Homo sapiens: one gene and its partners. The protein of the gene in region 4 interacts with the protein of the main gene of each other region in a biochemical or structural test. Each region holds a gene or a part of one and is shown on either strand. Other genes may lie near its edges. The genes, in order: GNG4, ABCC6, JAM2, APBA2, NCBP2L, SCN5A and FAT1.

The links.
Region 1: the proteins of APBA2 (region 4) and GNG4 interact in a test that uses a peptide from one of them, tested with the Homo sapiens proteins (one large-scale study listed by IntAct).
Region 2: the proteins of APBA2 (region 4) and ABCC6 interact in a test that uses a peptide from one of them, tested with the Homo sapiens proteins (one large-scale study listed by IntAct).
Region 3: the proteins of APBA2 (region 4) and JAM2 interact in a test that uses a peptide from one of them, tested with the Homo sapiens proteins (one large-scale study listed by IntAct).
Region 5: the proteins of APBA2 (region 4) and NCBP2L interact in a test that uses a peptide from one of them, tested with the Homo sapiens proteins (one large-scale study listed by IntAct).
Region 6: the proteins of APBA2 (region 4) and SCN5A interact in a test that uses a peptide from one of them, tested with the Homo sapiens proteins (one large-scale study listed by IntAct).
Region 7: the proteins of APBA2 (region 4) and FAT1 interact in a test that uses a peptide from one of them, tested with the Homo sapiens proteins (one large-scale study listed by IntAct).

What each region holds. Positions count from the first base shown.
Region 1 is NC_000001.11:235,552,285-235,555,784, reverse strand, and holds part of GNG4 (guanine nucleotide-binding protein G(I)/G(S)/G(O) subunit gamma-4), read left to right. Parts: intron 1-3,500. UniProt on the Homo sapiens protein: Guanine nucleotide-binding proteins (G proteins) are involved as a modulator or transducer in various transmembrane signaling systems.
Region 2 is NC_000016.10:16,153,995-16,157,494, reverse strand, and holds part of ABCC6 (ATP-binding cassette sub-family C member 6), read left to right. Parts: intron 1-1,640; exon of another isoform or gene 1,641-1,703; intron 1,704-2,463; coding exon 2,464-2,622; intron 2,623-2,700; coding exon 2,701-2,867; intron 2,868-3,500.
Region 3 is NC_000021.9:25,715,160-25,718,062, reverse strand, and holds the end of JAM2 (junctional adhesion molecule B isoform 1 precursor), read right to left. Parts: 3' UTR 501-2,903; downstream 1-500. UniProt on the Homo sapiens protein: Junctional adhesion protein that mediates heterotypic cell-cell interactions with its cognate receptor JAM3 to regulate different cellular processes. Plays a role in homing and mobilization of hematopoietic stem and progenitor cells within the bone marrow.
Region 4 is NC_000015.10:28,892,474-28,895,973, forward strand, and holds part of APBA2 (amyloid-beta A4 precursor protein-binding family A member 2), read left to right. Parts: intron 1-3,046; exon of another isoform or gene 3,047-3,136; intron 3,137-3,500. UniProt on the Homo sapiens protein: Putative function in synaptic vesicle exocytosis by binding to STXBP1, an essential component of the synaptic vesicle exocytotic machinery. May modulate processing of the amyloid-beta precursor protein (APP) and hence formation of APP-beta.
Region 5 is NC_000023.11:107,787,733-107,791,232, reverse strand, and holds part of NCBP2L (nuclear cap-binding protein subunit 2-like), read right to left. Parts: intron 1-3,500.
Region 6 is NC_000003.12:38,604,688-38,608,187, forward strand, and holds part of SCN5A (sodium channel protein type 5 subunit alpha), read right to left. Parts: coding exon 3,464-3,500; intron 2,124-3,463; coding exon 1,982-2,123; intron 1,462-1,981; coding exon 1,264-1,461; intron 222-1,263; coding exon 42-221; intron 1-41. UniProt on the Homo sapiens protein: Pore-forming subunit of Nav1.5, a voltage-gated sodium (Nav) channel that directly mediates the depolarizing phase of action potentials in excitable membranes.
Region 7 is NC_000004.12:186,710,357-186,713,856, reverse strand, and holds part of FAT1 (protocadherin Fat 1 isoform 1 precursor), read left to right. Parts: intron 1-3,500.

The DNA of each region.
Region 1 (3,500 bases), on a different chromosome or scaffold from region 4:
CTATAATGTATACACGTATCAAAACATCATGTTGTACACCATAAATATATTCCATTTTTATTTGTCAATTATAAATAAGGAATTCTACTTTTTTTTTTTTTTTTTAGAGACAGGGTCTTGCTCTGCCACCCAGGCTGGTGTGCAGTGGTGCGATCACAGCTCACTGCAGCCTTGAACTCCCGGACTCAAGCGATGTCCCTGCCTCAGCCTCCCAAGTAGCTGGGACTGCCGGTGTGCACTATCATGCCTGGCTAATTTTTTCATTTTATGGTAGAGTCTTGTTATGTTGCCCAGGCTAGAGTCGTACGTATAAGAAGAATTAAATGACATAATACATCTGATGCATGTAGCATAGTGCTGGCACCTGAGAAGCACTCAGTAAATGTAAATGTTAGCTTCTATTTGTATTATGGTTTTATCCAGCTGCCTCCTGAGCTTGTTTAATATGGGTCAGCCACAAGAGATGATCTATTCTGAGTGTGCCAGGAAATTGTGTTTCTGGGCCCAGAAGTCCAGTGATTGCCCTCTGAAGAAAGGGGGCAGATTCACCAAGGTGTCCTCTACTGTCTGGGACTGGACAGGTTGTCAGATGCCCCGTCTCCTGGCCTCTCATCATGGATCCACAGTGGCGTGCAAGTGTTCTTTTGTGACATTTCAGCACACATGGATTATTATAGTGACTTCATCATGTTTGAGATCACAGTGAGATCTTCTAGAGGGCAAAACTGTTGCCTTATTCTTTCTCTTGCATCCTCTGAATTAGCTAAAGGGTAGATAGTGAATACTTCCTTTCTGAATGACATAACGAGGATTATAGAGAATTCAGATGAAACTGGAGCATGTCCAAAAAAAATGAAGTAGATGGGAAAAGTGAAAACTAGAAAACTGGAGAGGGCATGATAGTCAGACGAGACGTTCTTTTTTTTTTTTTTTTTTTTTGAGATGGAGTTTCACTCTTGTTGCCCAGACTGGAGTGCAGTGGCACAATCTCAGCTCATTGCAACTTCCAACTCCCGAGTTCAAGCGATTCTCCTGCCTCAGCCTCCTGAGTAGCTGGGATTACAGGCACCCGCCACCACGCCTGGCTAATTTTTTGTATTTTTTGTAGAGACGGGGTTTCACCATGTTGGCCAGGCTGGTCTTGAACTCCTGACCTCAGGCGATCCACCCGCCTTGGCCTCCCAAAGTGCTGGGATTACAGGTGTGAGCCACTGCGTCCAGCCGAGCCATTCTTAAACGGAACTCCCAGAAGAGCTCACTGGAGTCAGGGGCCTAGACTTAGCAAACCCAAGAGGACAGTGGCTCCTAGAGGAGGAATGTGGTTGTTCCAACACTGCAGCCCTTGTGTGTGCTGCCCAGGCAGCAGTGAAGACCACTGCCCAGGGGTTGCCAGAGGGGTCAATGGATGAATTTAGTGGCTGTCCTAACATGGTGGCCATGAGGGAGACCCCAGACCTCAGCAGCTTCTGCATCTCTGGGCATGGTGAGAAGCCAGGAGTGGAAACTAAGGAGGTCATCACTCCAGCAGTTGGGGAGGGCACTTGGCTTTCCTTAGAAGGTGGCAGCAAGGGAGGGCTCAATCTCCCAAGTCCACCGGCTTTGAGTTGCAGCACTCACCATGTGATTCCATTCTCTTGTGTGTCCATCGCAGCCCTGTGGGCCTCAGAGTCCATTTCCTTAAGCCTGTGCTCCTGCTCCTTGTGATGGCTTCACAGGCCCCCCACAGGCTCAGTTTTCCCCTGAGCCTCACCCATCTGGGAAATTCCTATATGGGCGTCCTGTAACCCACTGCAAACTTCAAACACTCCTATTCAACTCAACATACACGTTTTTAGGATCTTAAATACTGACCATGCTATTAAAGGTAGAATCATAGACGTCTTAGAGTAAATTGGGACCTTAGAGCTCTCCAACGCTCCTGAATTTTACAAATGAGGGAAGTGAAGCTCAGAAAGGTTGAGCTGCTTACCCAAGGTCACACAGCTAGCTTACGGGCGGGGGTAGATCTAGAAGCCTGATGTTCACCGGAACTCATTTCTCCATGCCACATTCTTAACAAATGTAGGTTTTGTCAGGATTTAGACTAACTCATCTGCTAAACTTCAAGTTGATTTATTTGAGTGATGTGTTTAGTTGATTCATTGTATATCTCTGCTGGAATTATTTCTAGCCATTGCTAAAGCGGTTAGGTCTGAAAATCAGAAGAATCTCTGTAAAATGCTGAAAGATGAGCCAATTTTTAAAACCCAGAAGGGAATGTGTATGGCCTGTGTAGCTGGAGGCTTCTAAACATTTTTTTTCTTCATCTGTGGAACATTTTTATCATTCTGGGGAAGATTTAGACATTGAATGTACTAAAAGGATTTCATTTGACTGCTATGTATTTACCCCTGCCTGTAATCCGCTAATAAATACTCGCAGGCAGAACAGCCTAATTGGCAGGATGAGTTAATGCACAGGCCATTTATCTGCCAAGCACATGACACAGACCATGAACAAAATAAGCTGGTAACTGCCTCTCCCTCTTAGCAAATGCTTGTCCGCACCCCGCCCTCTCCCAACCTGCTCTTCCTCTGGCCTTGAGCTTGGGGACAGTTTGATGCACAACTGCCATGCGCCAGCAGGCTTCAGATAAGCCTGGAAAGAAATGGAATGGAAAGAACTTTCTGGTCAGGAGCACCTCTCTCCGCAGGGAAGTGGCCACTCCAAGTTAAAACATGTGTGCTGGCTGGGCACGGTGGCTCATGCCTGTAATCCCAGCACTTTGGGAAGCCGAGGTGGGCAGATCACCTGAGGTCAGGAGTTTGAGACCAGCCTGGCCAACATAGTGAAACCCCATCTCTACTAAAAATACAAAAATTAGCTGGGCATGGTGAGTGCCTGTAATCTCAGCTACTTGGGAGACTGAGGCAGGAGCATCACTTGAACCCAGGAGATGGAGGTTGCAGTGAGCGGAGATCACGCCACCACACTCTAGCCTGGGCAACAGAGCGAGACTCTGCCTCAAAAAAAGAAATAAAAATGAAAAATGAATAAAAATAAAACGTGTGCTTATAAAATATAGCTAAATACAAGTTCTGTTGAGGAGGATGAAGTGTCTCTCTGTGTTGGTCACAAGAGTGGATTGCAATAAAACAACTAATAATGATAATAAATATGATCACACTGGCTTGGCCAGGGGCTGCCTTCTGCTTTAGTCTTCCAGAAACGGTTTAGCAAAGTCATTGTGAGACTACTGTCCTGGAACCTCCACTCCTCACCTACTCGAGAATATATCAAGGCTGTCTGGGCCTCCTGCCAGCCCTCAGTCCTGTCTCCATGCTGGCCTGCCATGCGAGGGCAGCCTCCCCTTCTTGGAGGCCCGCTTCGAACCAGTCTCCTAGATCTGCACAAACCCTCCCTCCAGCCTGGGCATGACCATGTTGTAGGCCGTGCACACAATACAGCCTACCCTAGGGCTTGTCCCCTCTGTACGTGGACACCTCTTCCCTGGACTCACT
Region 2 (3,500 bases), on a different chromosome or scaffold from region 4:
GCTTCCATCTGGTGACTTCCTCATCCACCTTGGTGTCCCCAGATGAGGAAGCAACTCCGTGACTTCCTTCTTCCTTTAACATTAACCCAGCACCTAATATGTGCTGGGCAGTGTGTTAAATGCTCCAGGTACATTTTCCAGTTTGCACAAATGGGATATTTGCTTTCAGCTGGGAGACATTGGGAAAAGCACTTCATAGCTCAGTCTCAGTTTTCCCATCTGTAAATTGGGACTGGTAATACTGATCTCTGAGTTGTTGTGAAGTTTGAGTTAATACATAGAACATGCTTAGCTCATAGAAAGTGCTCCAGAAATGTTTACTAATGCTTTTATTATTTGCGTTTTCACTCTCACAACAACCCCTAAGTGAGGTGCTAGTACTATCCCATTTTACAGATGCCTCATCAGGCCCCTTCACTGAATCCCTTTCCTCCCTCCCTCTGAACCTACAGAGGCTTCCTCCCTGTCCTCTCCTTGTCCCCTAAAAAGCAGTGGATCCTGTCTCACCAGCTCCAATCTGCTCTCCTGTGATTTTTTTTTTTTTTTTTTTTTGAGACAGAGTCTCACTCTGTTGCCCAGGCTGGAGTGCAGTGGTGTGACCTTAGATCACTGCAACCTCCGCCTCCCAGATTCAAGTGATTCTCCTGCCTCAGCCTCCTGAGTAGCTGGGATTACAGGCACCTGCCACCACACCCGGCTAATTTTTGTATTTTTAGTAGAGACAGGGTTTCACCATGTTGGCCAGGCTGCTATGAAACTTCTGACCTCAATCACCCCCCTCGGCCTCCCAAAGTGCTGGGACTACAGGCATGACCCACCATGCCCAGCCATCCTGTGACCTTTATCAGCATGAATGACACTGCATGTCATTCCCCTGCTCAAAACCTTCTACTAGTTCCAGCTTCCCTTGGGGTAAAGTGTGAATTCCTGAGCTTGGCATTCAAGGCTCTACCCAACCCAGGCCCTGCCAACCTCCCCCTCTCATTCATTGCTCTGCCAGGGCTTAGCCAACATTGTGGAGCAGCTGCCTCTCGGCCAGGGGGGCACATGGTGCTGTGAGCTCCATGAGCTTCTAGTTTTGGAAACCCACTTGGTGTGGTTTACCTGGAGTGTTCCCCTTCCTTGAACTCCTATTGATCCTTCAAGCTTCCATGCAAGTATCCCTTCCTCCATGAGGTCTTCTCTTATTACCTCTGTCAAATCCCAGGCAGCATGAGCAGCACTGCCTTGCTTCCCTTAATTGCCAGAGGTCCAGACCTTGATAATAAACAGCATTGTTGGCTGGGTGCTGTGGCTTATACCTGTAATCCCAGCACTTTAGGAGGCCAAGGTGGGCAGATCACTTGAGGCCAGAAGTTTGAGACCAGCCTGGCCAACATGGTGAAATCCCGTGTCTACTAAAAATACAAAAATTAGCCGAGCATGGTGACAGGCACCTGCAGTCCCAGCTACTAGGGAGGCTGAGGCAGGAGAATTGCTTGAACCTGGGAGGTGGAGGTTGCAGTGAGCTGAGATCGCACCACTGCACTCCAGCCTGGGCAATAGAGCAAGACTTTATCTCAAAAATAAATAAATAAATAAATAAATAAAGCATTGTTCATCACACTGTATTACATTTACTCAATTGCACTGTTTCCTAGACCGGATGATGGGCACACTGGAGCAAGGACTCTTTAATTTCTATACTTCCGGTGCCTAAACAGGTACTTGGCATACAGTGGGGTGACCCACATGTTTCCATCATTAATTAAACAAATAATGTTGAACCCACACCATGTGTCAGACACTGAGGATGCAATAGTAGCAAGAGAGATAAGGATGGAGGGTGGATAACAGCATGGGAGATGGATAACAGAATGGACACATGGATAAGATGGAGGATGAATGGAAGGATGGATGAGGGAAGGATGGACTGGATGGATGGATGGGAGAAAATAAATGAATGAAAGGATTAGTGAATTGATGGATGAATAGGGAAGAAGAAACGAGAGACGGATAGACAGATGAATGGATGGATGAATGGAATGGGGTGGAAGAGAGATGGAGGGATGGGATTGAGGATGGATGATGGATGGATGGATGGCAGGATGGGGTGGAAAAAAGGATAAGGGATGGATGGACGGACAGACAGATGGATGGGATGGGGTAGAAAAAAGGATGAGAGATGATGGAGAGGTGTAAATAGAAGGATGAGGAAAGATGGAGGAACTAAAGGAAGGGTGGGGAGAAAGATGGGAGAGAGATATCAGGATAAGGGAAAGATAGAGAAGAACACAGATGGAAGACTGGATGGATTGATGGGTGGATATATAGAAAGGTAGACAGATGGAAAGAGAGATGGAAGGTAGACCTTTACACAATGAGGGATGGATAGACAGATCTCGGGTACAGCAGAAAGATCTCCCCAATAAATGCCCACAAACCCTCTGGTCAGAGCAGGCCTTTCCTCCCAACCCCGGGCAGGTGGGCATCGTTGGCAGGACCGGGGCAGGGAAGTCCTCCCTGGCCAGTGGGCTGCTGCGGCTCCAGGAGGCAGCTGAGGGTGGGATCTGGATCGACGGGGTCCCCATTGCCCACGTGGGGCTGCACACACTGCGCTCCAGGATCAGCATCATCCCCCAGGTGAGGCTGGTGGAGGGGGTGGGCAAAGATGGGAGGCATGGTGGGACCCGGCTCTGACCCACCGCCCCTCCCCGCCAGGACCCCATCCTGTTCCCTGGCTCTCTGCGGATGAACCTCGACCTGCTGCAGGAGCACTCGGACGAGGCTATCTGGGCAGCCCTGGAGACGGTGCAGCTCAAAGCCTTGGTGGCCAGCCTGCCCGGCCAGCTGCAGTACAAGTGTGCTGACCGAGGCGAGGACCTGAGGTATGGTCGTCCCACCATGGCTGGGACCTGCAGGTGGGAGAGGAGGGGATGGCCATGCCCTCCCCAAGGGCCTTCAGGAAATGCCTCCCCCGATAGGATTATCACTCTGTTACATTAATAACCACATGTCTCTTATCTGCAATTCCAAGCTCTGACACAGTCTCTGAATACCAAGGTTTTCCCCCCTAAATTAGCAGTTAGTCTTCTATATTTACTTGGTGGCAAAACCCAACCTCAACTGACACAGGGCTACTGATAGCCTTTATTGCTCTTGCTCAGTATTTATTTTGCTATGAAAATATTGTTTGATATCGGGTGGTAACCTCACCACTCACTGGGACTATAATATAGGATTTTTTTTTTTGGTAAATGTCAAGTGTGGACTGGGCACAGTGGCTCATGCCTGTAATCCCAGCACTTCAGGAGGCTGAGAGAGGAGGATTGCTTGAGCCCAGGAGTTCGAGACTAGTCTGGGCAACATAGCAAGACCCTATCTCTGTGGACAACAGTATTAGCCAGGTATGGTGGCATGCACCTGTAGTCCTAGTTACTTGGGAGGCTGAGGTGGGAAGAACGCTTGAGCCAGGGAGGCGAAGGTTGCAGTGAGCCGATATTGCACCACTGCACTCCATC
Region 3 (2,903 bases), on a different chromosome or scaffold from region 4:
CCCATCTCAACAATAACAGCAAAGAATTTAAAAGGAAGTCAGCCTGGGGGTAGAGAAAAACATGGTGTGTGAAACATCCTGGATCAGACTGATCTGGGTCCCCACAGACCCTGATTCCTCACTCCTCAGCTCCATGAACTTGACAAGTCAGTAACTCTTGTTTCCTCATCTGCAAAATGATGACATTACCCACTTTATAGTATCGCTGAGATGAATGAGATTTTCTACATCCTCACCCCCATCCATCCCCACCTCTGACATATATAAAGTGTTCAATAAATAGTTGTTGCTTTTTATTTTCAGAGCATTTTTCTCAGCATTTGAGAAGTTGGCAGCCATCCAGAGATGATGACATTCTAATCTTAAGCAGCTAACCAGCAGCTAGCCTTGTAGCTACAGAAGGTAAGAGGGTGTAGTTTCCTGGGTTTTATGAATAACAATAGGTGGATGACTCTTTCCCTGCACTGTTATATGGGGCTAAAAAGTTTAACAAGTTCAGCTATTTTTATTAGTGTAGACTTTAATCGAACAAAGCCACCTGTGGAAAAAGGAAGTTCTTTGCAAAGTTGTATTGAAAAGCAATCAATTGGTCCAGACTTAGGTCAAACCTCCAACTAAAAATAAATTAAATCTAGTTACAACAGCAACAATAATTAAAACAAAACAAAGCTTGCTAATAAGATTTTAAAGCCCTAATCTTTACACAACACAATTCACTGCAGGAAAATAAAGTCAAAATGCTGTAAGAATTACAATGGGATTTTACCAGTTGTTAGTGTTCAAGTTCCTCAAGTAAACACAAATGCAAATACAAGTCTGGACACCAGTGACCCACAGATACATATATATACTTTTAATAGGAAATTAGTGCTCAATACTCTGCCCTTTGTGTGGGGGAAAACATTCTTTTATACAAGGATTTTTACCTAGCTATTACAATAGTTTAAGGTAATGTACAATATATATTTGACACAGAGAGTGTTATTAGATGTTCGCACTGCATAAAATGAATCCTCTAGCCTTTGATGTCTTAAAAAGAAGTTTTACAACTATTAGTGAAGCTAAGGCACTACATATTTTCCTTCCACAATATGGATTTGTGTCATTTAAACTGAAGAAGTTGATCTTGTGTGATGACAGGTATGTCTGAAGAGGCGTCTTTCAGAGTCATCTATCCTCTTGGCATGCCAATGCAAGAGGAAAGCATTCCTCAAACCAAAGAAATCTTCCAACCAAAACATAGGTAACATTTAGCCTGATTTCTTACAAAAGCTTGTAGACAGGTGTTTTTTTCTGTACTTCACCACCATGAGTTGGGAATCTATGCCTGTGGGCCAAATCTTGTCTGTGCCTGCTGTTTTTGTAAATAAAGTCTTATTGGAACACAGACATGACTACTTGCTTGTTTTGTCTGTGGCTGCCTTTGTGCTACAATGGCAGAGTCAAGTAGTTGTTAACAGGGACCTTATGACTTAAAATATCTACTTTCTGGCTCTTTACAGAAAATGTTTGCCGATCCCTGACTCGTGGTGAAAATTTTATTTTGGGGGCAGAGCCATGTTACAGAAGCCCGACCTCCAGGAAGGGATCTGGTGAGAGACATAGCATGTCATAGACAAGTCAAAGGGGGAGCATCTTCCCGGTGGCCTGGTGTCCAGGCACATGCTAGGCACTCAGTGGGTGCTTAATCCATTTGTTCGGTGAATCCTGGGGATTTGCTTCGCCAATTGGGTAGAAAGAGCAGACTCTTTTGAAAGAAGATTAACCTGCCCAGTGCAGTGGCTCATGCCTATAATCCCAGCACTTTGGGAGGCTGATGGGGGTGGATCATTTGAGGTCAGAGGTTTGAGACCAGCCTGGCCAACATGGTGAAACCCTTCTCTACTAAAATACAAAAATTAGCCAGGTGTGGTGGTACACGCCTATAATCTCAGCTACTTGGGAGGCTGAGGCAGGAGAAGTGCTTGAATCTGGGAGGCGGAGGGGAGGCGGAGGTTGCAGTGAGCCAAGATTGTGCCACTGTACTCCAGCCTGGGCGACAGAGTGAGACTCCGTCTCAAAAAAAAAAAAAAAAAAAGAAAGAAGATTAACCATCATGTTCATAGTTGTCAAAGGTAGCAAGTGACCTTTTCATCCACATTTGCCCAGAAGAATAGGACATGCCCTAGCCATATTTTGTTTTTAATATCAATTCAGTAATTAAAAGAAGTTACAAATGATATGAATTTTTAACATAGTCTAATTGCTCTGGTAAACGGATCATTGGAATTTTCACATTGTAATAGTAGCTGGAAGCTTTTGTGGTTCATCGGTTGAGAAACCCACATTAGATCCACTTTTCGTTTGAGCCATTGCTCATGTGCCCACTGTGTTTCAAGAGGGGTACCAGATGCAGGGAGTCATACTGAGCTTTTTCGTCTCATTTTCCTGGTAGACTATTACTTCTTCCCTCCACATCCCTCCTTGTCCAAAAGCAGAATTGTCAACCCCTGACTAAGGGACTTGGCCCGGAATGTCACTGCACAATTTTTAGAGACAGAAAGATGTGAAGTCACCACTCCTGCAGGGAAAGGTATCTGCAAACTTGTGTAGGCTCCAGTGGTGAGTTCTGATGTCAAAGTCACTGATCCTCTTCAAAGAAATCTTACAAGAAGGAAGCAGTGGCAAGCAGCAGTAGGGGTGAAATAAGCCACTTGGGTTTGTGTTTGACCATCTAAATTACGTTTAATGAAGAAATCAGTGACACACACCAGGCAAATCCTGTGGTGCACACCTGTGGGCTCCAGCCATTAGGCATTTCTTTTGATGTTGCTTTTAGTTCCCAGGAATGGAAGTAAACACAAAGTGCAAATCCTTGGGCATAAGACCCATCCCGCTTCCTCCTTTCTGTGGGTGTGTTAGTG
Region 4 (3,500 bases):
TGCCCAGGTGTGTAGCCTGGGAGCAATGGCCTGTAACCTATAGCCAAGGTGTGGAGTAGGTTTGTATAAAGTATGCTCTATGATGTTTGCACAATGATGAAATTGCCTAATGACAAATTTCTCAGAACACATCCCTGCCATTAAGCGATGCATAACTGTGTGTATATGTGTGTGTGTGTGTGTGTATGTGTACGTATATATGTGTGTATGTATGTGTATATATATATAAAATTTTTTTTATTTGGTTGGTTTTACATTCCTGGAATTGACTCTCCAGCAGGGCAGCTGTAAATATGAATTCCTCCGAACTGTTGTATGCATTGTTAATTTAGTAAAGTACAGTTTATGGTTTCCCACCGTTGGTTTAATTGTCAACTGTCTTGGAAAAATCCATTGTTGCAAAAACAGGAAAACCACTAATTGAGTGAATGCGTGCATTTAGGGATGATGGATTTCTCAGGTCTCTCTGGAAGCAAGTGTGTGCCTTGTGCAAATAAAACATAGTTTCTGTTTCTCAGTCTTTTGCTGTAATAAGTGAGCCATGTGCTCTAGCATCTGTCTGGATTATCCGGAGCTGGTGGCAGCTGTCACGGGTGTGGTGCAGTGGGGCCAGGCATGTGTTAGGAACTGGAAGCTCTGGGAAGCCAGGCTTTGCCTCCACGTGTGAGCCAGCTGTAGAGCGTCACTGCTCAGAGTTTGTCTTGACTCATCCTGAGAAGGGCACGTGGAGATCTGTGTCCCATTCCTCACCAGCCACTGAGTTACTATGGATGGAGGAGATGAGATGTGTGCAACTGTTCTGCTACAGTAAAGCACTCAGTCAGTGCAGTCACCAGGTTTAGGGTGTGTGTGTGTTTTACCAACTTGCCTGCTGGGTTTCAGACACCTGGCACTACCTCCAGCCTCTTACTGATTCTGGCTAGTACTTGTGAAAGCCGTCAGCTGGGTGATGAATGGACCGATTTTGGCCGCAGGTCCCTGCACTTCCCATCTGGCCTGACTGCTAGATTCTGAGCCCCTGAGGCAGGACTGAGTGGGTCACATTAATGGCTGATTGTCTCGGGAATGGCATTGGGTGAAGTCGAGGTTTTCCTGACCCACAGCTCCTAGTAGAAGTGCCTTTCTTTTGTGCATGTATTGTGAAGATTCTGCCTGTGAACTTTCTCTACCCTTTGAGTCCTAAGGTTCAGGTACTTGGAGAGGAGCGTGTCATCGTTTTGCAGGTTGGATGTGCGGTTGTTGGGGAAGACATCTTTGTGCTGTGTTGGGTTGGAAGCTTTGAGAGCAGAAGCCCCTCCAGACCAAGAACTCCTGATTATGTCTCTCCCTTGGGCTTTCGCAGTTTTCAGCTTCTAAATTAATTGCATTTTATTAAGTAATGGTTTTCTTCTTGATCACAGGCGTGCCTGTGCTTAATCAGCACTGACGACTGGTGCTGCTTCAGTTGATTTGATACACCTAGAGGCAGCCTCATCTCCAACTTGCCTTGACTTCGTCTGGGGAGCTGCCGTGGGGGACCCCTGGACTGGCAGCATTCCCACCCCTCACTTTGGCAACCCTGGTCTAACTCCGTACGTGTTACTCCTTTTATCTGTCACATAGGGTGGCTTAATCTAATAGTGGAAACAAAGGGGTGCGGGACACTAACATGGTAGGTCTCACCTTGCCTGTCATTCACCTCTCAGTCCTTTGACACTCAAGGACTCTGCAGTGGTAGAACCGGGGGCAGGTACCCTTCACTTTTCTTACCCCCGAGTCCCTTTGCCTGGAGCTCTGTCCATCCATCCACCCATCTACTCAGTAGGTATTTTCTGAGCAGCTACTGTATTCCAGCTTTCTTGTTCCCAGTTTAGAGCTGGGTGGGATCAGGAGGGAGGGCATGGAGGGGGCTGCTGGAGAATGTGCAGTGGCATCAGAGCCCCATTCTGGCTCTGGGTCCAAGGCCCTCCTAGAGAGGCACAGTCTGGCAGATGTGAGAGCCCCATGGTAGGTTGGGGTGGATCATGGACCCCATCCTATAAGAGTGGGTGGGTTTACCCCTTCAGAGCCCAGGCCAGAAGAGCCCTCCAGGCAAAGGGCCAGCCTGGAATGGGGCACCCTGGGCACAGGGGGGACTATGTGGTTTGTGTAGGTTAGAGCTGGAGATGGGGGTTGGAGGGCAGTTGCTGACGATTAGGAGCTTGGTGGCCCTAGAGAGTCCTTGCTGTGGGTTGGGAGCGAAGCAGATGGGCCAATAACAACGCATAGTTTACCAAGCGAACTCTAGGAGAGTGATTTCTGCAGCTGGCTTCCCTAGCAGACAGGTCAGAGCGTGGGAGAAGGACGCCGTTAGGGGCATGTTCAGGGGTGCATCTAGAGGCGAGGGGAGGGTGCGGGGAGGTGCTGGTGGAAGATGCACTGCATGGGGTGGGGAGGGGCTCAGTAAGAACACAGGAGGGTGGCGGGGGCAGGTGTCTGGCCAAGGCAGCTCCTGCGTCATTGGGGGGCTCCAGAGCCCGCTCCCTATGTTCTGTAGGAGGCGGCTGCTGCTGCCAAGTCCCAGCCTTGCTAGTGAGGACGTTTAATTTTACCCTTTAGAGATTTACAGGATTTCTAGATTAACTTGCCCCTGTTTTTCTAAAAGAACGACAAAATCCATGACAAACCGTTCATCACATTATTAACTGGCTCACCCAGCCTTAACCTGTGCAGCTCCGCCAACTTACCCTCGGCACACAGGGAGGCCTGGGTCCCCAGGCAGCTCCAGTGTGCAGGGGTGTGGGTGACAGCGCAGGTGTGGCCTCCCTGCTGCTGGCCTCCGGTGGCTGGCCTCAGCCTGGCTGGGCACGCAGGCTGTCCTTACGGGGCTCCCAGTAGCTTTCTGGTCCTGCGTCAGGAGAGGGGACTGCACAGGGCTTGGGAAAGAGAGCGGGAGCAGCAGTGCCGCAGGATGATGGGCTCCAGAGGCCTCTGCAGCAGGGGTACTCTGGGGAGACATTCGGGTGCCTCCTGTCCATGGCCTCGATGTGCCAGGGCGCCTGCAGCTTGGACCCTCTTCCCCTTTCAGGCGGAGGGAGCTGTTCATCCTCTGGGGGCTGCTGGGCCAGAAATATCTCTTACCTGATAATGTCAGGCATCAGAGGTTCCTGTTTCGTGGGTAAGTTGCTGTATGTTTTGGGGCTGCAGTCAGTCTGTTTTTCTCACTGGCATGGCATGGGGGTGGGGGGCAGTATTCCCTCCCATGAGGCCCATGTCCACCTCATTATCTCTGTCTGCTGGGACTGCGCTGGATGCTGGCTGAGGCTGCCTTTGTTACTTTCATGCGCCATAACTGGAAAGGCCTGCTGCTTGTTAGGCTCCTTAGAATTCTGATTTGAAGGCTGGGCATGGTGGTTCATGAGGTAATCCCAGCACTTTGGGAAGCCGAGGAGGGAGGCTCGCTTAAGCCCAGGAGTTTGAGACCAGCCTGGGTAACGTAAGGAGACCCCATCTCTACAAAAAAATAGAAAAGTTAGTCGGAT
Region 5 (3,500 bases), on a different chromosome or scaffold from region 4:
ACTTTCAAGCTCAACACGTGGCAAAAGGACAGATTGATGGATATTGGGAAAGATAACTGGCATGGGAGCTTTGTTTTATAATGTGGGGCATCCTCTACTTTATTCTTCTCTTCACTTGTTTCTCCATTCATTCAATCAACATTTATAGAGCACTATGTTAAATTCTGGGGAAACAATAAAAAGTAAGATGCAGCCCTTTCCCTCAGGTAGCTCACAATCTGGGGAGATGGACAACTTAACATACAAATTGCAATGCAATGTAATTATTCTAATCACAGGAGCACACAGTAGGCCCAGAGGTAGCACAAAGAAGGGAGTACAAAACTACAGAGGAGGATGAGGAGGGGAAAACAACTTTCTAAAGGACCTGATTCCTGAGCTTTTTTAACAAAAAATTTACGTAGTATTTACTTTTTTGAATAGTGAATTCAGATTTGTGTTACAAAATGCAGAATGTACAAATAGGTGGAAAAAGGAAGTCTTCTTCCCACTCCTGTGCCCCAGCCACCCAATCATTGTCACTAGTTTCTTGTGTATCTACCCAGACATAGTCTGAGTCCAATTTTGAAAGCTGAATAAAGATTTGACTGGAAGACCAAGGGGTCATTCTAGGCAGAGAGAACAGTGTGTATGAAGGCATGAAGGCGTGATGGGGGGTGTTCAGTCTGACGTTATTTGGGCAAAGAAAATAAGGAAAAGATGATAGGAGATAAGATTGGAAGGGTAGGCAAGGCCAGATTGTGAGGGGCCTTGTAAGCCTTGTGGAGCAGCTTGGACTGTACCAGTAAGCAGTGGGAACCATGATAGGGCTTCAAGCAGAGGAGTGATGTGATCTGATTTGCATTAGAGAAAATGCATTCTATCACAGTGTGAAGGATAGACTAAGGGGGAGCAGGCCAAGAGGCAGGAAGACCAGTTACGGAGCTATTTGAATGGTTAAAAAACAAAAAGATTATGGAAAGCCTGGACTAATAATATGCTGTAGTAACATAAAGGAAACACATCTCAGATAGATACTTAGAAGACAGACTGAACAGGTCTTGGTGACTGGTTGAATGAGAAATTCAGGATGACTACCGAGTTTCAGCACTGTGTAGATAGAGGTCAACTGTGTAGATAGAGGTCTGAGTCACCAAAATGGTGTCAGTTGGGCAGACAGAGGAGGAAGGGCAGATTGGAATAAAAAAGATGAATTTGGAACATACTGAGTTTGGTCTTGAGGTACCTGTAGGATGTGCCATATTACACGTGTCAAGTATTAACTAGTATATGGGTTTGGAGCTCTCAAGAGAGGTCTGTGTCTGGGACCACAGACACAGATTTGGGGCTCAATAGGATGGTAGATAAAACCATGGGTATGGATGAGATGATCTAGGGGAAAGGTGAGGAATGAAAAAACCTGGGAAAGACTGGCATTTAAGGGGTGGCAGACGAAAAGTCCACAAAACAGCATAAGAAGGAGTAATCAGAGAGGAATGAGGACAGTCAGAAGATGTGCAACATCACCAAAGCCAAGGAGTAGGTCATGAGAGTCATGAGGACAGAAGTAGGGTGAGAGCAATCAATTATGTTAAATACATCAGAGAGAGGTCCAGTAAAATAAAGACTTAACATTGTTCATTAGATTTGGCAATTAGGATGTCATTGGTTTACTTAAAAGAGAAATAACAGTGGTGTTCTGGGAACAGAAAAGCCATAGTGGGAGCTGAGTTTTTAACAGGAGGTGAGGAAATGGAGAGTGTCTACACTTTAGAAAAGATTCCATAACAATAAAAGAAGAGAAATAGGGCAAATGCCAGTTGGGGATAGAGGCGAAGGAAAATTTGTTTGTTTCTTTTTTTAGAGTGAAAGTTGATCATGCCTGAAGGTTGATGGGAAGCAGCCAGTAAGTAGAGAAGGAGTTGTTGAAGACACAGATGAGAGGAGGGATAACTGATGAAGTAAGTCCTCATGGAGGTGAGAAAGAATGGGCTCCAAAGCATACGTAGAGAAATTAGCCTTGAACTGGAGAAGCTATGTGTATTTCTGCAAGCCCAAAAAAAAAAAAAAAAAAAAAAAGAGGTTAGGACATGTAGGGACACAACTATGTGGCAGGGTGGGGTTAGGACAGGAAAATGAGTGTTAGCATCCAACGACCTAGATTTTCATAATGGAATAAGAGGTGAGATCATCTGCTGAGAATAAAGTGGATCATTGAAAATAGTTGGTGAAGCAGAGTGGAGGTAAAATGATTGAAAGGATGAAGCTTATAAATGGGTCATCTATGAGGACATTAAGATCACTCAGGATGGTGGCTAGAGTTGGGGTGGAAAGGAAGACTATCAGTGAGGAGGTGAAGTCCTCAATAGGTGAGAGAACTAAAGTACAGCAGATGATAGTAGGAAGGATTGGAAGAGGGTGGCTGTACCATCTCCAGGCCCCATGGGGTAAGAAAGAACAGAGAACCTCTACCACTGAAAACAGAGGTTTCTAGTTGATGTTAGGTACCTGACCCAAAGTAGGTACTCACTAGATGTGAAGAAGTGAGTTACTCTTTTTTAAGCTGGTATGATCATGAAATTGCATCAGACCATCACAAGGAGTGGCAGTCCCAATGTGCTCCATGCTGGTCAAACTACACAGCGAGCACTACGTTCCATTTCGAGGTACTGTATTTTAAAGTGAACATTTACAAATCATAGTGCATCTGATGTTTATTGAATGAATGAAGGGTCAAGAAGTAACTGAGGACTGATTAGAAATTGGGGATGTTTAGTCTAGCAAAGAGATGGTTAAAGGAGGATATGACAAATGTCTTGAAATATTGAAAGTGCTATTTCTGCTCCATATGATAAAAGTAAGATTAATGGATAGAAGTTAAAAACAGAAGATTACAATTCTTTTTTAGCAGAGTTTTTAATTCATCCAGTGATAGAATGTGAACTTACCTAATCTATTCATGTGGAGGCTGCAATGAACACCTACCTGCTAAAGGTGTTAGAAGGGTCACCCCCAAGGTTAACATCCCCAAAGGTTAAAGAGAAGATAGAAAAGCAATCCAGTTGCCAGGGACCACAGATCACCAAGTTGATCTGTAAACACTGTGAGAGAATATTTCCTACCTAAAAAGTAGAGCTTGGTTGGAGTGGAAAGCTTTCCTTGACTCTTGCTACTGGAGAAAATTAGTCAGAGAGTCTAAAAATAGAAGAAAAACATGAAGAATGGCTCAAAATGATCAGTCAAAATCCTAAGAGGACGGAGGAGAGGAGGTGGCAAAATAAAGTAAATTATCTTCCAGGAAACAAACTTCACTGGGCTTTTGGAGTTGGCAGGACTCTGCAAAGAATCTTTTCAATGGTTGCCTTAAACTAATGCTGGGATTGTTTCAACTATGTGAAAGGAACAAGGATCTGGACTCTTTAAAAAGCCAGGCTACTTTCTGCTCCAGATGAAGGCAGTAGCTCTAAGAAAGGAAATTAGAAAGCGCTGGGACAGTAGTGTTACTACATGCCTTACCTTTA
Region 6 (3,500 bases), on a different chromosome or scaffold from region 4:
CAGACCCACCCTGGAAAAGCTAGAACCACAGCTGGGATTACCATTGCTCTGGGACCATCTTCTGAGTCAGACTTGGGGAGCCTGTCCTCCCCACACTCCTCAGTTCCTGAAGACATCCGTTTTCTCCTCTTGCTTCTTCTCTCATGGCTGTTTACTGGGGCCAAAGGGGACATCTCCAAGGAGCTACGGGACACGGTATCCACACCCCTGATGGTGAGGGCCTGGAAAAGAGTGGAGGAACGGACGTTTCCATCATTGAGACTTTGTGCAGCCTCAGGCTCAGGCAGGCCAGGCAACTCTCAGTGACTTGGTTTTCCCTATCAGTAAGTGGACTTGCACACCTACCCCAAAATGAGGACATCATGGAGATAAACTCAGACAGACCCAGAATGTTTTGGGAAAGATCAAGATCCAGGAAGGAAGATAGGAGTGGCTAAAGTGGGCAGCCTCGGAAGACTGGAGTGTGTGGAACAGGTGGGAGGTGGGTGTAGATGAGCAGAGAAGTGGCAGAACCAGAAGGCAGAGGCTCTTCTAGAAGGTTTAGCTGGCCAAAAGTGTACTGGAATATGTGGCATGGGGTAGTGAGAAGAACAAGTGGATGCTTCTAATAGCTCTGGCTTCTAATAGCTCACTCTATAGCCAGCCTCCAGGCTCCACCATGTGGGGGACTAGGGATGGCTAGGGCAGCATTGTCAGTGCTTATTTTCTGAGACAGCTCTGTTCTCTGACATTGGACCTTCTTCACTACCCCACCAGAAGGCATCCCTTGACCAGAATAAACTATGTGCATGTATACATGCATCTCTTATCCAGCATGCACTATGCTCACAGGGACCATCTTTACCCAGGAGCTACCACCCAGCAGGCACCATTTTTACCCAGCTGGCGCCACCTTCACCTGGAGGACATGACGACCATAGGGAACAAGTTTACTCAGCACAAGCCACACTCATAGGACCCACCTTACCCAGCAGATGTCACTTTTACCTAGTAGGCTCCTCACTAACAGGCACGTCTTAACCCAGCAGGTTCCAAATTTTTACTCAGCGATACCACATTCACAGAAAATATCTTTACCCAGCAGGCACTGCACCATGCCCACAGGCACTGGCTTTACCCAGCATGCACCATGCCCACAGGCACCAGCTTTACCCAGCATGTACCACGCCCACAGGCACCAGCTTTAACTGGCATATACCCCACCTATAGGCACCTACAGTCAGGTGAGGGCTTAGAGGCTCCTCGGTGGCACTGCTCACCCACCTCGTGTTCTTTCTTGAGCATTTCCATGGCCTCCTGGAAGCGCTTTTCCTTCTCCTCGGTCTCAGCGATGGTGGCTTGGTTTTGCTCCTCATAGGCCATTGCGACCACGGCCAGGATCAGGTTCACCAGGTAGAAGGACCCCAGGAAGATGACAAGCATGAAGAAGATCATGTAGATCTTCCCTGCGGACCTGAGGGTCTGGGGGAGCAAGGGGGCAGAGGTCACCCTCACTGGGGCCCCTTCTGGGTTATGGCATTTCCAAGTCACCTAGTCTAGTTGTGCCAGGGGTTCAAATAGCCATAGCCTAGGGAGGAGGGTAGAGATGTCCCACCTATAGAGAGGGACATGTACTGACCTGCAGAGGAGAATGACCTGCACACAGCGGGACTGTGTCCCACCTGAGGAGGGAGGCAGAATGTTCCACCCAACTCAGGGCATGCTGTGCCCACAGAGGGAGAATATTCCATCCTACAGGGAGAAAGAGTGTCCCACTCACAGAGCAGAGAGCATCCTATACAAAGGGACTGGTACTTCATCACCAGCAAAAAGAAAGTTTCTTTGCTGCTGATCCCTTCTCCCTCAGAAGCAAGGGTCCTTGTCCCCTGTCCCCTCCAAAGCTCCCACCAGTGGGGAGGCTGCTGGGGCCACTTCTGGCTAGTCACTTGTGTAGCCTGGACCCTGAGCCCACACTTGCTGTCCCTTGTGGGCACACACACACCTGCTGATAGAGGCGCTCCCAGCAGTCCTGCGTCATCAGGCGGAAGAGTGCAAGAAAGGCCCAGGCAAAGGAATCGAAGCTGGTGTAGCCGTGGTCGGGGTTCTCGCCTGCCTTTAGGCACCGGTAGCCCTCCGGACATGTCCTGCAGCCACACACAGAGACTTTGTTCCATGCCGTCAGGGGTCTGCTGCCCTTGAGACCCTTGCTGGGCTGGACTTGTCTCCCTGGGCAACCCAGTTTATGCCCCACAGCTCAGTGAAGCTGAGCTTCACAAACCTAGTGCCACGCTGCTGGATCCTGCCTCCGTGACTTTGTTCGTGCTGTGCCTCCCACTGGGACACTATCTTCCTCTTTACTCTTCTTATATGTACTCTGCTAGGCCTAAATCAAGCTCCCTTCTGCCCATACGTCACACCATCCCCAGCTACTATCAAGTTGCCTCTCCTCACAGAGAGGAAGCACACAAGCCTGGCTCATGTCTCTTCCTCTGCCCATCTACCCCATGAGGAGTTGAGTACAGCATGGGCATGGGGGAGAGCAGGGTTGGGGAGAGCAGTGAGCCTCGGCTGAGCTGAACAGGATGAGCCCAGGGCAAAGGCAGGGCCATGGGGTTGAGAAATGATTCTGGAGGGGATGGGCTGGGGCTTGGCCATGTCAGGAGCTCATTTGCACAACTGTGCACACAGCCACTGGTTCACTGAGGCAGATTCACAGTTCACAGAGCTGGAGGTGGTAGCCTCTCTCCAAAGAGGAAATGCTGGTCTGGAGTCATGTGTGCATGTATGTGTGTATGACACACACACACACACACACACACACACACACACACGAGGGACTTAGCAAGTGGATGGATGCATCCAAGGGACCTCTGTGTCTTGCTAATGCCCCAAGACCCTCCAGACAATCTCTTTGGTGACAGGAAGGAGGCAACAAACTTGGTACTTCTCCTTTGAGGTGGCCCTCTGTGACCCCCTTCTCCAACACTCCATGGCACTGTCACAGTGATCCAGGCCCTGGTGTGCACAGGGCCCTGGAAGCTGCACATGGCTACTGGGCATCTCAAGGAAAGTCCAGGCTGCTGGAGAAACCACATTTGCTCCAAGGGACAGATCAGCAGCAACGGAGGGAAGACTGGAGCTGGAGGGAGCAGTTCTGGGGAGCTTCTGGAAGGGAATGGAGCTGGGGGTGGGCTGGTTGGGGGGCTGTAGAAGGCATCCCAGGCTATCCCTCAGTCCCAGCCCACCTTCAGGGCTCCGTTAGCTCTCCCTGCAGCTCTGTCCCTGACCTTTCTCCAGAAGCTGTCTCCTCTGTGCTGGGGGCAAGGTGGGGAAGCTGGGGAAGGGTCCTGGCAGGTAAGGGAGACAAAAGAAGGCCTCGCTGTCCCTGGGGTCAGGGCATAAATAGAAAATACAGTCAGTTGAGAAAACACCAGGAGACTCCCCTGGCAGGACAAGGAGACCCGGGGTGGTAGGTGCCACATACCCAGCGTCAGAGCTGTTCCCACACAGTAACACATCAG
Region 7 (3,500 bases), on a different chromosome or scaffold from region 4:
ACATGAGCCAGGCGTGCTGGTGGTTCCTGAGTATGTAAAATTCTGTCAGTCTAAATCTACAGACGCACCTATAGTCCCAGCTACTCAGGAGGCTGAGACGGGGGCCCGGAAAGCTCAAAGCTTCAGTGAGCCGTGATCGCGCCACTGCACTCCAGCCTGGGTGAGAGAGCGAGACTCTGTCTAAAAAAGAAAAAAAATTGAATAAATAAATGGAGGAAGATAGACAAATCAGTTTCTAGAAGAATTATAAATATTTTGAGTAGCGAAACTCTCTGTCTCTTAAGAATGGGCTACATGCAGTGACTTCCTTACCAAGAATACAGTACAGGGAGGGGTGAAAGTAACCTGACTGTGAGGAAACCTGGCAGATACTACCTCAGTCACGTGGTCAGGAGCAGCGTCAACATCGATAAATCGTGTTGATTTTACCCGCTTGCTACGGTGTGGTGGAAACGACTCTACCTCTGTGGCTTTTCTCCCCAAAACAGAACCCCAATCTAATCAGGAGAGAAACGTCAGATTCCAGTTGAGGGACATCCTACAAAATACCTGACTAGTACTTCTGGAAACTGTCCAGATCATTAAAAGCAAGGAAAATCTGAGAAACGTACATTCCAGAGGAGCCTTAGGAGACATGACAGCTAAATGTAAGGTGGTGTCTTGGAAGGGATTCTAGGATGGAGAGAAGGCCTTGGGTAAAATGAGCAAATTTGAGTGAAGTATGGACTGTAGTTGATGATGTGTCAGTACTGGTTTGTTAGTTGTATCTAGTATAATGTACTAAAGTGAGATGTTAACAGTAGGGGAAGCTCTCTTTGCAACTTTTCTGTAAGTCTAAAAGCATTCTAAAATAAGGTTTATTTTTAAAAAGAACCCCCTTCATGATAGGTTCTCTCCCAGGATGTGCCCCGGCCTTACCGCTGTCCCTCAACCGCTGTGCTCCAGCCACGTGGTCTCTTTCTGGCTTCCCTAATCTAGTGCTTCTCTGCGGGGTGTGACTTTCTGCCCTAGAGGGTGTTTGGCAATGTCTCGAGATAGAGGTATTTTTAGTCATCACAGCTGGGTGATGAGGGGGATGCCACAGGCTTCATGCTGGTGGGGACCAGGAATCATATTGAACACTCTACGTTTCCCCAAAGAATCTAAGAGTTGCCCAGCATGTCACTAGTGTAAGCCCTGACCCTTTGGATTTAGGGTTCCCTCTTTTCCTTCAGGTTCCTGACCCTGGTCTCTCTTTGCCCTGCTTTAGTTTTCTCCTTAGCACTTAATTATCAGCATCGGATATACTCTGTTTACTTGTCTGTCTGTGTCTGGCCAGGAAATGTATCTTCCATCAGGACTTGTTGGTAATTTGGTTCACTTTTGAATCCCCAGCGTCTAGAACTGCACCTGATACATAGTAGATGCTCATTAAACCTATGTAAAAGGAATTAAATAATTAATGAAAGGGGTGAGTGGATGATAAAGACAACACATACTCATGCTAAAAAAAAACCACAGTAGAGAAAAATGCCACAGTAATCATTCCCTCAGCTACCTGTTTCTCTACCGGTTCTCCAGAAGTTACCACTGTTAACAGTTGCTTGTCTGCCTAGACTTTTCTGTCCATTTTAAAGTATATCCGTGGGTACATTGTATCTACCCCCCTTCTCCTCTCTTTTAAATAAACATAAATAGGATCAGCTTCGTTTTTCCAGTTTATATAGCTAGACATATGTCAACATACAGAGTGCTATCTTTTAATGGCTGCATGATAACTTTATACGTAGAATTAAGCAAAAATACTTCTAGTACTTGCAATAGAATCCTGGTATAATATTTTGTTGTACAATGGATGATGGTAAAAATGTCTCCTAAAACATAATGTGACTCCTAAAACAAAAGACACTGCTTGCTAAACATCATCCAAGTGTTTCTGGTTTTGTTTTTTTGTTTTTGAGACAGAGTCTAGCTCTGTTGCCCAGGCTGGAGTGCAGTGGCGCGATCTCGGCTCACTGCAATCTCTGCCTCCCGGGTTCAAGTGATTCTCCTGCCTCAGCCTCTGGAGTAACTGAGATTACAGGCTTGCTCCACCATATCCTGCTAATTTTTGTATTTTTAGTAGAGATGGGGTTTCACCATGTTTTGGCCAGGCTGGTCTCGAACTCCTGAGCTCAAGGGATCCGGCTGCATTGGCCTCCCAAAGTTCTGGGATTACAGGTGTGAGCCACCGTGACCAGCCTCTTTATATGTATTTTTATTTCTAGTTTGTAAATCCCTTGGGATTGGGATCTTTGTCTTTTATTCCTTAACACCATGCAAGGTTCTGTCTGATAAGGTCCTCCATACCTGTAGGTTGAACTTTTTATTTGTTTTGATAAAATTACAAGATTATTTTATAATATTCAAATTTCCCTGAGTATTAGAACTGTTGACTAAATGGAGATACTTAAAGAGATAGTTTTGGGAGAAAATTGTTTTCTTATTTTGTTTAAATGATAATTGTTCTCCTAGAAGCCAAAAATCTGTCTAATTTCTGACTTTATCTGGAGAGGAGAAGGCATCATAGCTAAAGAACAAGTTAGGGTGGCCAACTTGAACGTGGTTCAATATCAATTAAGCTTTAATTGCTTTAAGCACATCAGGTCTTTTTTTCCCCCTAAGGCAATGACTTATGGGGCAGAGTTGGCAGTAGCTAAGTTAAGATACTATAAATTAATGTTGTCGTACCAATTTCAACTGGGCTGTCAAACCCACCCTCCAGTTTGCTCTTCATTTACCTCTGGTAGCATTCACATTTTGTGAATATTAATTTGAGAGTCACTTTGCAAGATGACAGTGCTGTCCTTTGTGAAGCTGTGTTGATTTACAAGATGAATTTGTTGGCAAAGGGGAACAGTTGATCTGAAAATAACTGTCCTGCTTCCCTGGCCAGACCTCAGCCCAGTGGACTTCGCCCACCTTCCCATTTGTCATTGTTAAAGGCAACGTTTTCTTCATTTCTTCAGTTTCTCTCTTTTCTCCGCCAGTCACCCAGGGACTGTCCTGCAGAGTCTGCCACCATGTATTAATAGACTGATTTGACCCTTGACGTGTGTTAGCTTAGAAGATTTAGCTTTTGTGTGTGTGTGTCATCTTCTCATGGAGGGGCCCAGGGTGACAGGTTGTTCGATGCCCTGAAGATAGGAGACATTCTGTGAACAACTGGTTGTTGACAGCAGTGGTGATAAAACATTGATATAGTTGGTAAAGTTTGCTTCACTGACTTAGAGAGGAAAAATGCTGTTTGACATCAGGCTGCTGAATTCTGGTTTTTCTTTTGTAAATTGCCTTTCTTTGGGGCTTATGTTGCTGATAAGTATTATACTTGATATAATTATTTTAATACTTTTAAGTAGTTACATAGAGCGAAATGAGACAATAAACCCTTACATTATGTAGGGAGTGAACTTAACCATTCTTATACAGAAATAATATAATTTCAGGATACATTTTGAAATGAGATTACAAGCTGTTCTTAT